Homo sapiens: one gene and its partner. The protein of the gene in region 1 purifies or fractionates together with the protein of each later gene. This does not show direct contact. Each region holds a gene or a part of one and is shown in the gene's direction. Other genes may lie near its edges. The genes, in order: GNLY and GID4.

Region 1 (7,154 bases):
CCTTTTGTGTTTGGCTTACTTCGCTTGGCATAATTATTTCAAGGTTCATTCATGTTGTAGTATGTATCAGAACTGTGTTCCCTTTTTAGGCTGAATCATATTCCATTGTATATGTAGAGCACATTTTGTTTATGCACTTTTTAAAATTTTAATTTTAATTTTTCTTAGAGACAGGCTCTCACTCTGTCATCCAGGCTGGAGTGCAGTGGCATGACCTTGGCTCACTGCAGCCTCGACTTCCTGGGCTCAAGCAATCCTCTCACCTCAGCCTCCTGAGTAGCTGGGAGTACAGGCACATGCCACCATGCTCAGCTAATTCTTAACTTTTTCTGTAGAGCTGGGGTCTACTATGTTGCTCAGGGTGGCCTCAAACTCCTGGCCTCAAGCCATCTTCCCACCTTGGCCTCCCAAAGTGCTGGGATTACAGGTGTGAGCCACTATGCCCGGCTTGTTTATCCATTTATTTGTCAATGGACACCTGGGCTCTTTCCATCTTTTGGCTACTGTGAATAATGCTTCTATGAACATTGATGTACAAGTATCTGTTTCAATCTACTTTTATTTCTTTTGGGTGTCTACCTAGGAGTGGAATTGCTGGGTTACATGTCTGTGAACATTCTTGTATAAATCTGTGTATGTAGAGGTGTTTTCATTTAGTTTGGGTAAATACATAGAAGTGAAATTGTTGAGTCACAGGGCAGGTGTACGCTCAACTTTCTGAAAAACCGTCAATCCAATTTTCAGTTATTAGTGTTTTATATTCCCACCAACAATGCTTAAGAGTACCAGTTGCTCCACAGACACATCAGCATTTGGGTTTTCTGTCTTTTTAATTTTAGTCATGTTGATGCATCATCTCAGTATAGTTTTAATATAGAATTTCTTGGCCAGACGCAGTGGCTCATGCGTGTAATCCCAACACTTTGGGAGGCTGAGGTGGGTGAATCACTTGAGATCAGCAGTTCAAGACCAGCCTGGACCAAGATGGTGAAACCCCATCTCTACCAAAAATACAAAAATTAGCCAGGTTTGGTGGTGTGTGCCTGTAATCCCAGCTACTCAGGAGGCTGAGGCAGGAGAATTGCTTGAAGCCGGGAGACAGAGGTGGCAGTGAGCCGAGATCACGCCACTGCACTCCAGCCTGGGCGACAGAGTGAGGATCCATCTCAAAAAAAAAAAAAAGGAATTTCTTTGTGATTTACGATGTTGAGCAGGTTTTCAAATGTTTTGGTCATTCTTATCTTCCTTTGCGAATTACCTGTTCAAATATTTTGCCCATTTAAAAAATTGGATTGCTTTATTATTATTATTGCAGTAGCAGTTGATATAATAAGGAGTCCGTAAACAGACCCACAGTCAATTGATATTCAACCAACGTGCCAAAGCAATTCAATGGGAAAAGAAAAATCTTTTCAAGAAATTGATATGAAGAAACAAAACCTCAACCCAGCTCACACTATACATTAATTTGAGATGAGTCATAGACCTAAATGTCAAAGTTAAAATTATAAAAGTTCTAGAAAAAAACATAGAGGTGATTTTTATGATAGCGTAAGTGAAGATTTCCTGAAGAAGATACAGCAGGCAATATTTCTTTTCTTTTCTTTTTTTTGAGACGGAGTCTCGCTCTGTCGCCAGGCTGGAGTGCAGTGGCGCGATCTCGGCTCACTGCAAGCTCCGCAGAAGGCAATATTTCACAGAGGAATTCTTTGTGGGCCTGGGCCTGACTTGCAATGGGCCAGTTCCTGGGGTACCATGGGTGGGAATTGGGTAAAACTTACCCCAGGTTCTTATCACACGGGACCCCAGAGGCCTGGGTGGAGGCTTGTGACTAACTACATGAGCTTTGCCACGTACTCCTCAATACCTCTGACAAGGACTTACTGCAGTGTTTGGTCTCACCAAGTTTCCCACAATAAAGAGACATGAGTCACCTTTCAAGACCCTTTACCCCCAAGAATGTGGTCTTCACACATGAGACCAAGGTCTACAAGTGGTCAGGAGAGAGGGGGTCTGCTCAGATGGGGGAGTAGTGCCTGAGCTGGCCTCAAGAGGGTTAAGTGGCCCTGCACTGAAAACCTGGACACTGAGTTAGGGTAGGGCTGGGGGAAAACTTGGGCTTTGGAGTCGTAGGGTCTGGGTTCAAATCCACAGACCATTCCCTTCCTAGCTGTGTGTTGGTGGGTAATTCACTGGATCTTTCTGAGTCCTGGTTTCCTCATCTGAGGTAAAACGAGTTTGCCGGTTGGTCTGAGAGCTGTTCTAGGCATGGTGGGGAGACCCTGACAGGCAGAGGCAGCCCTGCTCTCAAGCAGTTGATTTACAGCTGGGGAAACAAGACAGCCACAAATGCAATACCTCAAACTCAACTTCTCACCAGAAAGCTCCTTTTCCTAATTTTCACAGCCAGTCCCTCAGCCTCCTGGGCCCCAAATACTAGTAAAACCTTTGCCTCCTCTCTCTTCTTTCTTTCTTGTAATCATATAGGTACAAAGTCCTACCAATTCTTCCTGAAATATGTTTCCTTATCAAAAAGTCCTGCAAAGCCGTGCGTGGTTGCTCATGCCTATAATCCCAGCACTTTGGAGGCTGGGAGGATCGCTTGAGTCCAGGAGTTCGAGACCAGCCTGGACAACATATGGAGACCCATCTCTACCAAAAATTTTAAAATCAGCAGGGGTGGTAGTGGCAAGCACCTGTGGTCTCATCTACTTGGGAGGCTGAGGTGGGGGGATTGTTGGAGCCTGGGCGGTTGAGGCTGCAGTGATCTGTGATTGCACCACTGCACTCTAGCCTGAGGTACAGAGCAAGAACTTGTATCAGAAAAAAAAAAAAAAAGTCCTGCGGTAGCTGACACTGCCATTGCCTATACGATTCCCATTCCCTCATCCTCCCTAGCAGGATATCAATTTTGTTCGAAGTGTCAATGAAGGCCAGGTGCGGTGGCTGATGCCTGTAATCCTAACACTTTGGGAGGCCGAGGCAGGCGGATCACCTGAGGTCAGGAGTTCAAGACCAGCCTGGCCAACATGGTGAAACCCTGTCTCTACTAAAAACACACAAATTAGCAGGGCATGGTGGCGTGCACCTGTAATCCCAGCTACTCAGGAGGCTGAGACAGGAGAATCACTTGAACCCGGAGGTGGAGGTTGCAATCAGCCAAGATCACACCACTGCACTTCAGCTTGGGTGACAAGAGTGAAACTCTGTCTCAAAAAAGAAAAACAAAACAAAAACAAACAACAACAACAAAAAGCAAAGTGTCAGTGAAGGTCCAGCAAAAGACTCCCTTCCTATTGCCCTTTGCAGCCAGGGTCATCATGTGACACAGTTCAGATCAATGAGATGGAGGCTGAGGGTCCCTGGGAAAGATGTTTTTCCTATACAGGTACCACCTCTTTCAGCTTCACTCTTTCCATTTTCCACGTGAACAGGCCTTGTAGCCTGGAGGAGCTACAGCTGCCTTTTTGAGATGCTGAGGCACCCTGTCTGAAGAAGGCCCTCACATCACTCAACTTGACTACTGGGTGAGCCCTTGGAGAGGCTTCCCAGCCTCTGCTCTTCAAGCCGAAGTACCACAGGGGACACGAGTCCCAGAGTTACAGGACCCCAGCTATGGTTCATGTGTAAAGGGAACCATTAGGCAACCAGGGGAAATGATGAAGAAGATCTACATTTACAAATGTGGAAAGATGTTCGTGGTATATTGTTAAATTAAAAAGCTGTTTAAAAATAGTTTTTGGGTCAAGTGAGATGACTCACTTATACTTTTAGTATAAGTATGTCCCATGCAATATCTGGAACGTACTTGTACTAAGGGGTTTCTCCCTCCATCGGCACATCCCAGGCATCCTGGCAGCTGCTGGCCTCCAGCAACCCCACATTCTAGTTGTGTGGGAGTGGGGTGTGGCATGGACCCTGTGGGCTACCACTGCCCTGAGCTGCTTCTTCACACACTGGTATTTGTATCTGTGGTAAACCCAGTGACACGGGGGAGATGACATACAAAAAGGGCAGGACCTGAGAAAGATTAAGCTGCAGGCTCCCTGCCCATAAAACAGGGTGTGAAAGGCATCTCAGCGGCTGCCCCACCATGGCTACCTGGGCCCTCCTGCTCCTTGCAGCCATGCTCCTGGGCAACCCAGGTAAGGCCTTCCCCTCGGGATCGATCCTGATGGCCCACCCAGCCTCGCACTCTCAGGCTGGCTGAACCTGGAGCTTGGACTCTGTGGGCACCCAGGTGCCCCTGCCTCCCCCCGGCCTTCTCCCCCGTCATGGAGGCCTGGCCTCCCCTCAGAGCCAGGCTTAGTCCAGTGTGCTGCCCAGCCTGTCACTGGCCTGGCCAAGGAGGAGAGACAGGCCAGGGATTCTGGTCCTAACTCTACTGGCCACACTGTGTGGCCTGAGACCCCCCTTTCCCTCCCAAGCCCCTGCCTCCGCATCTGCGTGGTGAAGGCCATTGGCCCTCATCGGTGGATCTGCGTTTCCTCGGGCCTACACTGTCTAGGATTGTGCGGGGCTGGTGAGAGAACAAGATCTCTTCTGTGTTCAAGGCAGACTTCCTGCCCCCTGCACCCTGCTCTCTCCCAGGCCTTGAGGTCAGTGTGAGCCCCAAGGGCAAGAACACTTCTGGAAGGGAGAGTGGATTTGGCTGGGCCATCTGGATGGAAGGTAAAAAAAGAAAATCCCTTGAAAGGAGATTGAGGGAAGTTTCTAGACAAACCGACCCCCAAATCTGTGTTGCTGGGGGAACAGAGGAGAAGAGAGAGTCTCGCCCTCCTGGCTTTCTAGAAGGAACGTGAGAACACGTGTTTGTGCTGAGAGTGGGTCAGAGCGGCTCCAGGGCAAAGCATGTGGACAGGTATCCTGGCCCCCTGCAAGGCCCAGCTCCTGTCCTAGGCCCTGGTCACCTCCTGGACTCCCACCAGCCAGGAGAACGGGCTTTCCCTCTCCTTCCGCCTGCGGAGGGGAAGCTGAAGTCTGGTCTTCCTCAGGTCTGGTCTTCTCTCGTCTGAGCCCTGAGTACTACGACCTGGCAAGAGCCCACCTGCGTGATGAGGAGAAATCCTGCCCGTGCCTGGCCCAGGAGGGCCCCCAGGTACGTGTTGGCTCTCTGCTCACCTGCCACAGTCCCTCTCCTTTCCCTCCTCCCTGGTGGCTCCTGGGGTGAGGTCTGGAGCTCTCTAATGGTCAGGAGGTGGGAGTGGAGGCTGGGCTGTTTCTGACGATGCTGGTTTTGTTGAATTCATGTCTGGCCAGGAGGGCTACAGGTATCTGGCAGACTCCTCCAGGAGGATCCTCTGGGGTCTCACCCTCCAAGGAGCCTGGGGCTGCAGAACCCAAATAGGCAGACTCCCCTGGGAGTTCCTCAATAGGAGAGGGGCAAGTGCAGGGCTGGGAAAGTACTGGGGGTGTGGGAGGCTGTTTCTGGGGTGTCTCAGAGCCTCTAAGACAAGCAAAAGGGTGGGCAGGGGCCAGGCAGCCAGTTCAGGCCTTCAGTGTATCCACGCTCTGGGAAGAGATCACGGACATTCCTGCCGGCCTCAGAAACACAAAGGGCCCCTTTCCTGGGCACTTTCACGCGCTCCCAGAGTGTCTGAGAGACCATCATAAGGGCTTTCTTTCCTGACAGGGTGACCTGTTGACCAAAACACAGGAGCTGGGCCGTGACTACAGGACCTGTCTGACGATAGTCCAAAAACTGAAGAAGATGGTGGATAAGCCCACCCAGGTGAGGCCAAGGGGCTACAGAGCCTCCTGTCTGCTGCTCAATGGAGGGGCCAGCCTGTGACCAGGTCGGGGATCGGGGAGCCCGGGGGCACCTTGCACAGTGATCCTGGGGGAGGGCTTCCTAGAAGGGAATCTGTGAGTCCCCGTGTGTCTGTGGATGAATTTCAGAGAACTTGTGAAATTGTGACTCTCTGGAACTGTGTAAGTCAGACGGCAGAGTATACATGGTTTTCATCATGTATCCTCAAAGAGGGCTTGTCCCAGAGAAGTTAGGAATCTTCCCCTAAAGCCCTAACATTTGTGTCCAAGGCAGAGTTTGAGAAGCTAGTTCCCCAAGAGGCCTGGGTCAGGACTGATAAATCCCAGATCTGCTACTTCCAAGCTGCATGGCCTTGGGCAAGTCACTTCCACTTTCTGAGCCTCTGTTATCTTATCTTTGAAATGTGATGGATAATAGTCCCTATCTTGCAAGTTGTCAAACCCTTTTTTTTTTTTTTTCCTTGAGATAGGATCTTACTCTGAGACCCAGGCTGGAGTGCACTGGTGTGATCTTGGCTCACTGCAACCTCTGCCTCCCTGGCCCAAGCAATTCTCCTGTCTAAGCCTCCTGAGTACCTGGGGCTCCAGGTGTGCGCCACCATGCCCAGCTAATTTTTGTACTTTTGTAGAAACAGGGTCTCACTGTGTTGCCCAGGCTGGTCTCCAACTTCTGAGCTGAAGCAATCCACCTGCCTTGGCCTCCCAAAGTGTGGGATTACAGGCATGAGCCACTGCACCTGGCTGCTGAAGCTTTTTAAAAGAGCTGAGGGCTGGGATGTACTTAGCTCCACGTCCAGCACTGAGTAAATGCTTAACGAATGACTGTGTTACTACCAAGAATTATTGTTTCACTCTCCCTCCTTCCCTCTCCTCTGCTGCCCCAAACTACTCAGCATCCTGGCACTGCAGGCTCGCACTTAGCCCTGGATACCCAGATTCATCCTCCTCCCCTGGGATGGCATAGAAGAGACTTTAAAACCAAATGAGCCAAGACTCCAAGCTCTGACCACACCTCCCACCCCACCAGTCTTCTCTATGCACCCCCTCTATCTGGAGCCCCCAGCCAGGTCCTGGACCCAGGTAGCTACATGGCAGAGCATTTAATGTGTGCCTGGCAGCCATGGGCACCATTCTCCACACAGAAGGCAGGGGACAGGTGCACAAGGCGCTGAGACCCCAGCAGGGCTAACTGTCCTTGTCTCAGGAGCCCTACCTGGCCAGTCTTGGGCCAGGCCTTGGGGACTGGGAGTAGGGGCTGAGCCCCGTCTGTACAGTCTCTGGCCCCATGGGCACCAGGTGCCAGCTCCTCGCACCCAGTACTCCCATTGCTAGGGCTGCTGGAACCTGCAGGGTGGCAGAGCTGGGCAGGACTCACCCTATAACCA
Region 2 (5,653 bases), on another chromosome or scaffold:
GAGAATCACTTGAACCTCGGAGGCGGAGGTTGCGGTGGGCCGAGATTGCACCACTGCACTCCAGCCTGGGCGACAGAGTGAGACTGCATCTCAAAAAAAAAGTGTACAAGTCAGTGATCTTTCCTATATTAATAGAGTTGTCTAACTATCAAGTTTAGAACATTTTCATCACCATAAGAGGAAACCCCATACCCTTAGCCATTATCCCAAACTCCTCATCCCCTCTGAGCCCTGGGCAACCACTAGTCTTTCTCTTATGTATGTATAGATTTGCCTATTCTGGGTATTTTATATAAATGGAATCTACAAAATACGGCCCTTGCTTCTGGCTTTTTTCACTTAGCATAATGCTTTGAAGGTTCATTCATGTTGTACCATGTATCAGAACTTCTTTTTTATTGCCAATTAATTTTCCATTACAGGTATATACAACTTTTTTTTTGAAACAAAGTCTCGCTCTTGTCCCCCAGGCTGGAGTTCAGTGGCACGATCTCGGCTCACTGCAACCTCCGCCTCCCAGGTTCAAGCAATTCTCCTGCCTCAGCCTCCCGAGTAGCTAGGATTACAGGCGCCTGCCACCACGTCTGGCTAAGTTTTGTATTTTTAGTAGAGACGGGGTTTTGCCATGTTGGCCAGGCCTGTCTCGAACTCCTGACCTCAGGTGTTCCACCCGCCTCGGCCTCCCAAAGTGCTGGGATTATAGGTGTGAGCCACCGTGCCCGGCCGGTATATACCACATTTTATTTATCCATTCATTATTTAGTGGACACTTAGATTGCTTCCATTGTTTAGCTCTTGTGAATAATGCTGCTGTGAACATGGGTATATCTGAGTTCCTGCTTTCAATTCCTTGGACATATACCTAGGAGTGAAATTGCTAGGTCATACGGTATTGCTATATTTAACTTTATGAGGAACTGCCAAACTGTTTCCCACAGCAGCTGCACCATTTTGCATTCCTACCGGCATGTATGAGGGTTCCAGTTTCTCCACATCCTCCCTGGCACTTGTTATCATGTCTCTATAATTATAGCTACCCTAGTGGATGTGAAGCAGTATTTCATTGTAGTTCTAATTTGCATATTTTTGATGGCTAATGCATATTTCTTTCCTGATAATTTGTTTTTGGTAAGAAATAAGCCGCTTTTTCCTACGTTCTTCCACACTCCTGTATGAAACAAGTAGGGGAGAGCCAACTTGCTAGACATTGACTCTAAATGTGCCCGAGGTTGTCATCCCAGCATGTAGATTGTCTGCCCCTATTTCTCCTCCCTCTGCATGACTCCCTGGATCACCTGCCAACAGGGGAGGCAAACACCTCAGATATCACTAATGTTTTCCAAGCCTAATACCGTACCTAGGAAAGTGAGAAAATTTAAATGAAAGGTAAAATACAGTTTAAGGCAGTAGTGAAATGAATTTTTCTACGCTCTCTTTAGATACCATGAGAATCAGTTTATGCCTATGCTAGCCATAAAGTTCTTAGGATATGAGAGCCTGGCATTACATGCTACAGCAGGAGAGGTCAGAGCAGCCGGTGAGGTTAGGGCTTGGGCGTGGGTCTCCATCTTCTCCCACAGCTTATTGAGGTCTCCTTTTTATAAAACATACCATAGTTAACTTCATGATTAGAGCAGAATGAAAAAAAACATTCATCTAGTGCATGGTTCAGGAGGATTAACCAAAAAAAGAAAGAATGAATGAAATCAAACTAGGTTCAACTTGAGAAATAGAAAATGAATGTGCATTTCAGTCCAAGTATGTGACTTGTTGGGTGCTCTGCTTTTTGAGGGGTTACTAATGTCCTTTGCTCAGGGTGCATTAGATGACTACCTCCCGTTTCTGTCTCCTCCCCCTTGCAGGTATCAGTCCCTCAATCTAACCCATGTTCCTGAACACAGTGCACCCATCTATGAATTCCGGTGACAACGGTTCAGAACAGCAACCAAATAAAACTGAACTTGGCAAAAAAGAACTTTGCCGAGAAAATTGTGTACCTGCCAGAACCAGGAGAAGTGTGTTCCTGTTTCTTCACGAGCAGACTCGCATCACAAAGCATGAATGTTAACCCACAGAATCCAAGGAGCATGGCTGGCCCGTGGGGCAGGTGGAGGGAGCAGTCTTCGTTCTTCCTCCCCTCAGTGGCAGTTTGGTCTTCACCTGTTTTTAAGCTACCTTAAACGCACTTTTCCTTCCTGCACAGCTAACTTCTACATCACTGAAATGCCCATTCCTTCCTCCGTCCCACCTCCAGCCGAATAGAAGGTCTGCTCCCGGATCACCCTCAGCCTTGGTGCTCAGTGGTCCCGAGGCCCTAGACCCCCACCCCCCGCCAGTTGCTTTGTCTGGTAGCTCAAGAGAAGGCAGAGCCCCAGCACCTCTGTGCCCCCCAGAGCTCTGTGCAGGGAGTTGGCCAGCTGCCGCATCATCGGCCACCAAGGGCACAAGAGGCGGAGGCTCCAGTCCCTGCTGGGCTGCCTCAGTCTTCAGTGCTGATTGTGTCACGGGTCAGCGTGCGCTGCTGAGCCCTGTACTGTTAACAGTGCAAAGCTAGTGAGTAGCTGTCAGGTTCCCTGGGCCTGCCATCAGGGATCACTAAATTTAAGGCTTCCAGATCCCTGGCAGGAACAGATTCCAGTCCTGCTTACTCAGTACATTTGCTCCAAACTTTTCAACTTGAGGGCAATACTAAACTTAAAAATAAGAGTTTTTTTATTACAAAATTATTTTTATGGTCCCTTTAACGAGGACCCTATGGCAAATGCACAATTATTCAGAATTACATTTTATCGTTTTCACATTGAAAACAGCAAATGTTGACTTAGTAATTTTTATATCGATATCTATATGTATATGTATATTTAATCAACCAGCAGTTTTGAAACTAGTCATCCTGGTACAAAAGTTTTGCAGCATTGCCTAAATTATAGTGCTCAACACAAGAACTGTTTTTGGGGCCAGTTTAGCATTTGTGCCGCCTCCTTTTGCTACTCAAAACAGCAATGCTTGGCGGCAGCCTTCCATGAGGCAGAAGGGGTCGTCGTTCTCTGAAAACAGTGACTCTGAAATGTTGGGACAGGGGAAGGGGTGGGAAACATGAACATGCTCAAATAACTCGAGGCTCACGTGCCAAAGTGTGTGTGTGTGTGTGTGTGTGTGTGTGTGTGTATGATGTTTTGTTTTTTTAAATGTTTTAAAAGCTTAATAGGTTGGCATCAGTTGTAGCCCACAAACATGGCTAGGGCTTTGGGGATTTGGCATTTTTCTGGTGGTTTACAAGACTTACTCCGAATACAAGAGGAAAAGCTTTAAAAACAAGATTGCATCATAACCCCCAGGAGCAAAGCAACCTGGAGGCTGCATATCCATGGGCGGGCAGCATAAGAGAATGTGAAGCCCTTCAGTGAGACGAGACGAGCAATGGGAAACCTTTTCTGTTCTTAAGAAGTGACTTTAATTTTATTGACATATGTACTGTATGTTACTGAGATTGAATGTTAGGGGAAGCCTTAAGGTAGAGGTATTTGGGAAAGTAGCCAGTGGGCACTTGTGATATCTAAAATCTGTTATCCCAGGACTGTGTACAGAGGGGCAACCTACCCATTCAGGAAGGTCAGGGCTTTGGAACCCTAAAAAGTTGGCCCGATGACTTAAAGGGAAAAATAATTCATTCCCAGAGATGAGTCAGAACAGTCTCCTCAATCCTGAAATTCAACAAGGCATCAGAAGGGCTGGCTGTGGTCAAGCCCAGCTGCTGTCATGTGAGGAGATGCTCACTGTGGTCTTGTTGAGCTGATGGCCTTGGTTGAGCTGATGGACAAGTGAAGGAGGCCATGGGGCTGTGCTGTCCTTCCTGCCGTACGTGCCATTCCACTCTCTTCAGCTCTCCCCTCAACAGCATGCGAGCCCATACCTTCTGCATTTTTCCAGGCCTGTGAGGGATATAGGCCTCCCCTTGGAGCACTGAGTCCGGAGGTCATCCCTGAGCTCATCCACGGCTCATGCTGTGGCTCCGAGTAGTGGTTTGAGTGGGCAGGAAGGGCCATTTGCAAACACTGCTGTGTTCTAGACAAACAACCCAAGTCCTATGGCAGGATTTCTTCCTTCCTTCCTTTTTTACCCAGGTGATGAAGTGCACCCATTGTACTGGGAAGAATGAAGAGGTGATACCTTTACTAGATCCTTCAGACACATCTATGAGAAGATTTGTTCATTTAAAAGTCTGCCCACTGAGGATAGGGAAAGGATTAAGGATTTTTCCACCTCCTCTTAGTAACTCCTGAATTACCAACATCAACTTCTTTCTCTCCGTTCCTGAAGGAACTTTGGGGAATCATCTTCATCCGTAGTTACGCTTTCCTGAACCTTCTCAGTGGTTTACATGCCTCTGAAACTATGTGCAATATTTTTGGTTGACACTTGTATCCATCCTTAAGAAATTAGTGCAGATTGCAGATGTTCTGTCTTCCATCCCAAACAAGCCTGCCATGAGGTAGGATCCTAGGGGTTTGGCTGTTCTTACTCCACTGCTCAGAAAGCTTCCATTCTGCTGTCCTCAGCCTCGACCCTCTTCTGTGCTGGACTTCCACCCACCCACCCTTTTCAAGTTTAGATAGTGTTTCAGCTGCTGTCCCAAAGTAACAAAACAATACCTACTGTTAAGTAGGAAGTCAATCTGTGTGCTGGTTTTGTTGGTTATGTGGAAATCACAAACTCCAGAGGAGCAAAGGGGTTTTTCAATGTCTTTTGCTTTCAGAAACAGAGAATATAATATTCTCACTAAGGCCTTGAATTGATTTTTTTCTCATAAAATAGTCTGATAAGCTAATTTTTAAAAAGAAATGCCATTAACTGTGTTGTATCGTGGTTTAAAATTACTAACAAGTTGTGGGAAAGAAAAATAATATTTGATTTTGAATCTTAAATGTTTTTAAAAATTAGACTTGAATGGGCACAAAGTATAAATATTTTGTTTCTTTATGGAGGACATGTGGAAGGAGTTTGAGGGTTTGGGATGGGAGAAGTATTTTGCAGAGCTATCAATGTCCAAATAATTTAAAAAAAAAAATAAAGGTATTTAAGCAGTGAGTTTGTCCTATTTGTAAACCAAAGCAGCTCCATTAGAGGAAAGCAGTCCTCTCTGGGCCTGTGGCTGTGGAGCTCTCCAGGGCCAGCCGGAGACCTCTGTGTGCCAGGGCAAACCGAGGGCCCCTCTGGGCAACTGTTGCAGTGGTCTGCTTGCTCCTTTTTCATTCTGAATGTTTTCAGCTGCTCAGCACTTCTATTCAAGCTCCATTTTGTTAATTTCTGTATTTCTTCAGAAATGTGGAAGCATTTTTTTTTTCCATATGTGAAGGGTTTATATTTCTATTTAACACAGAGAAAATGTGCAGGCAGAGGTATCTGTCCAAAGCCTGCTTTGTGTTCTGGTGTGGGGACAGGCAATGCTGTTGGGCTGCTCTCGACACTGTGACTGTGGTCCTCAGAGAAGATGCCTAAGTCTCAAAGCACAGGCACTTGGACCCCCAAATAGCAGGATCCCTAAATCAGCCATTACAGTTTATTCTGACAAACCATTCTGTTACGTTTCAGGTCCCACCTCCCTAGGAGGCTTGAAGGAACATGACTGGAAACATGGGAGATTTTGAGGAAA

What was found.
Region 2: the proteins of GNLY (region 1) and GID4 purify together in Homo sapiens (co-immunoprecipitation; 2 studies listed by BioGRID and IntAct, with this or other methods). This does not show direct contact.

What each region holds. Positions count from the first base shown.
Region 1 is NC_000002.12:85,690,326-85,697,479, forward strand, and holds the start of GNLY (granulysin isoform 2 precursor), read left to right. Parts: upstream 1-4,032; 5' UTR 4,033-4,093; coding exon 4,094-4,145; intron 4,146-4,427; exon of another isoform or gene 4,428-4,590; coding exon of another isoform or gene 4,591-4,671; intron 4,672-4,994; coding exon 4,995-5,098; intron 5,099-5,632; coding exon 5,633-5,731; intron 5,732-6,662; coding exon of another isoform or gene 6,663-6,755; exon of another isoform or gene 6,756-7,059; intron 7,060-7,154.
Region 2 is NC_000017.11:18,063,318-18,068,970, forward strand, and holds the end of GID4 (glucose-induced degradation protein 4 homolog), read left to right. Parts: intron 1-1,862; coding exon 1,863-1,926; 3' UTR 1,927-5,088; downstream 5,089-5,653.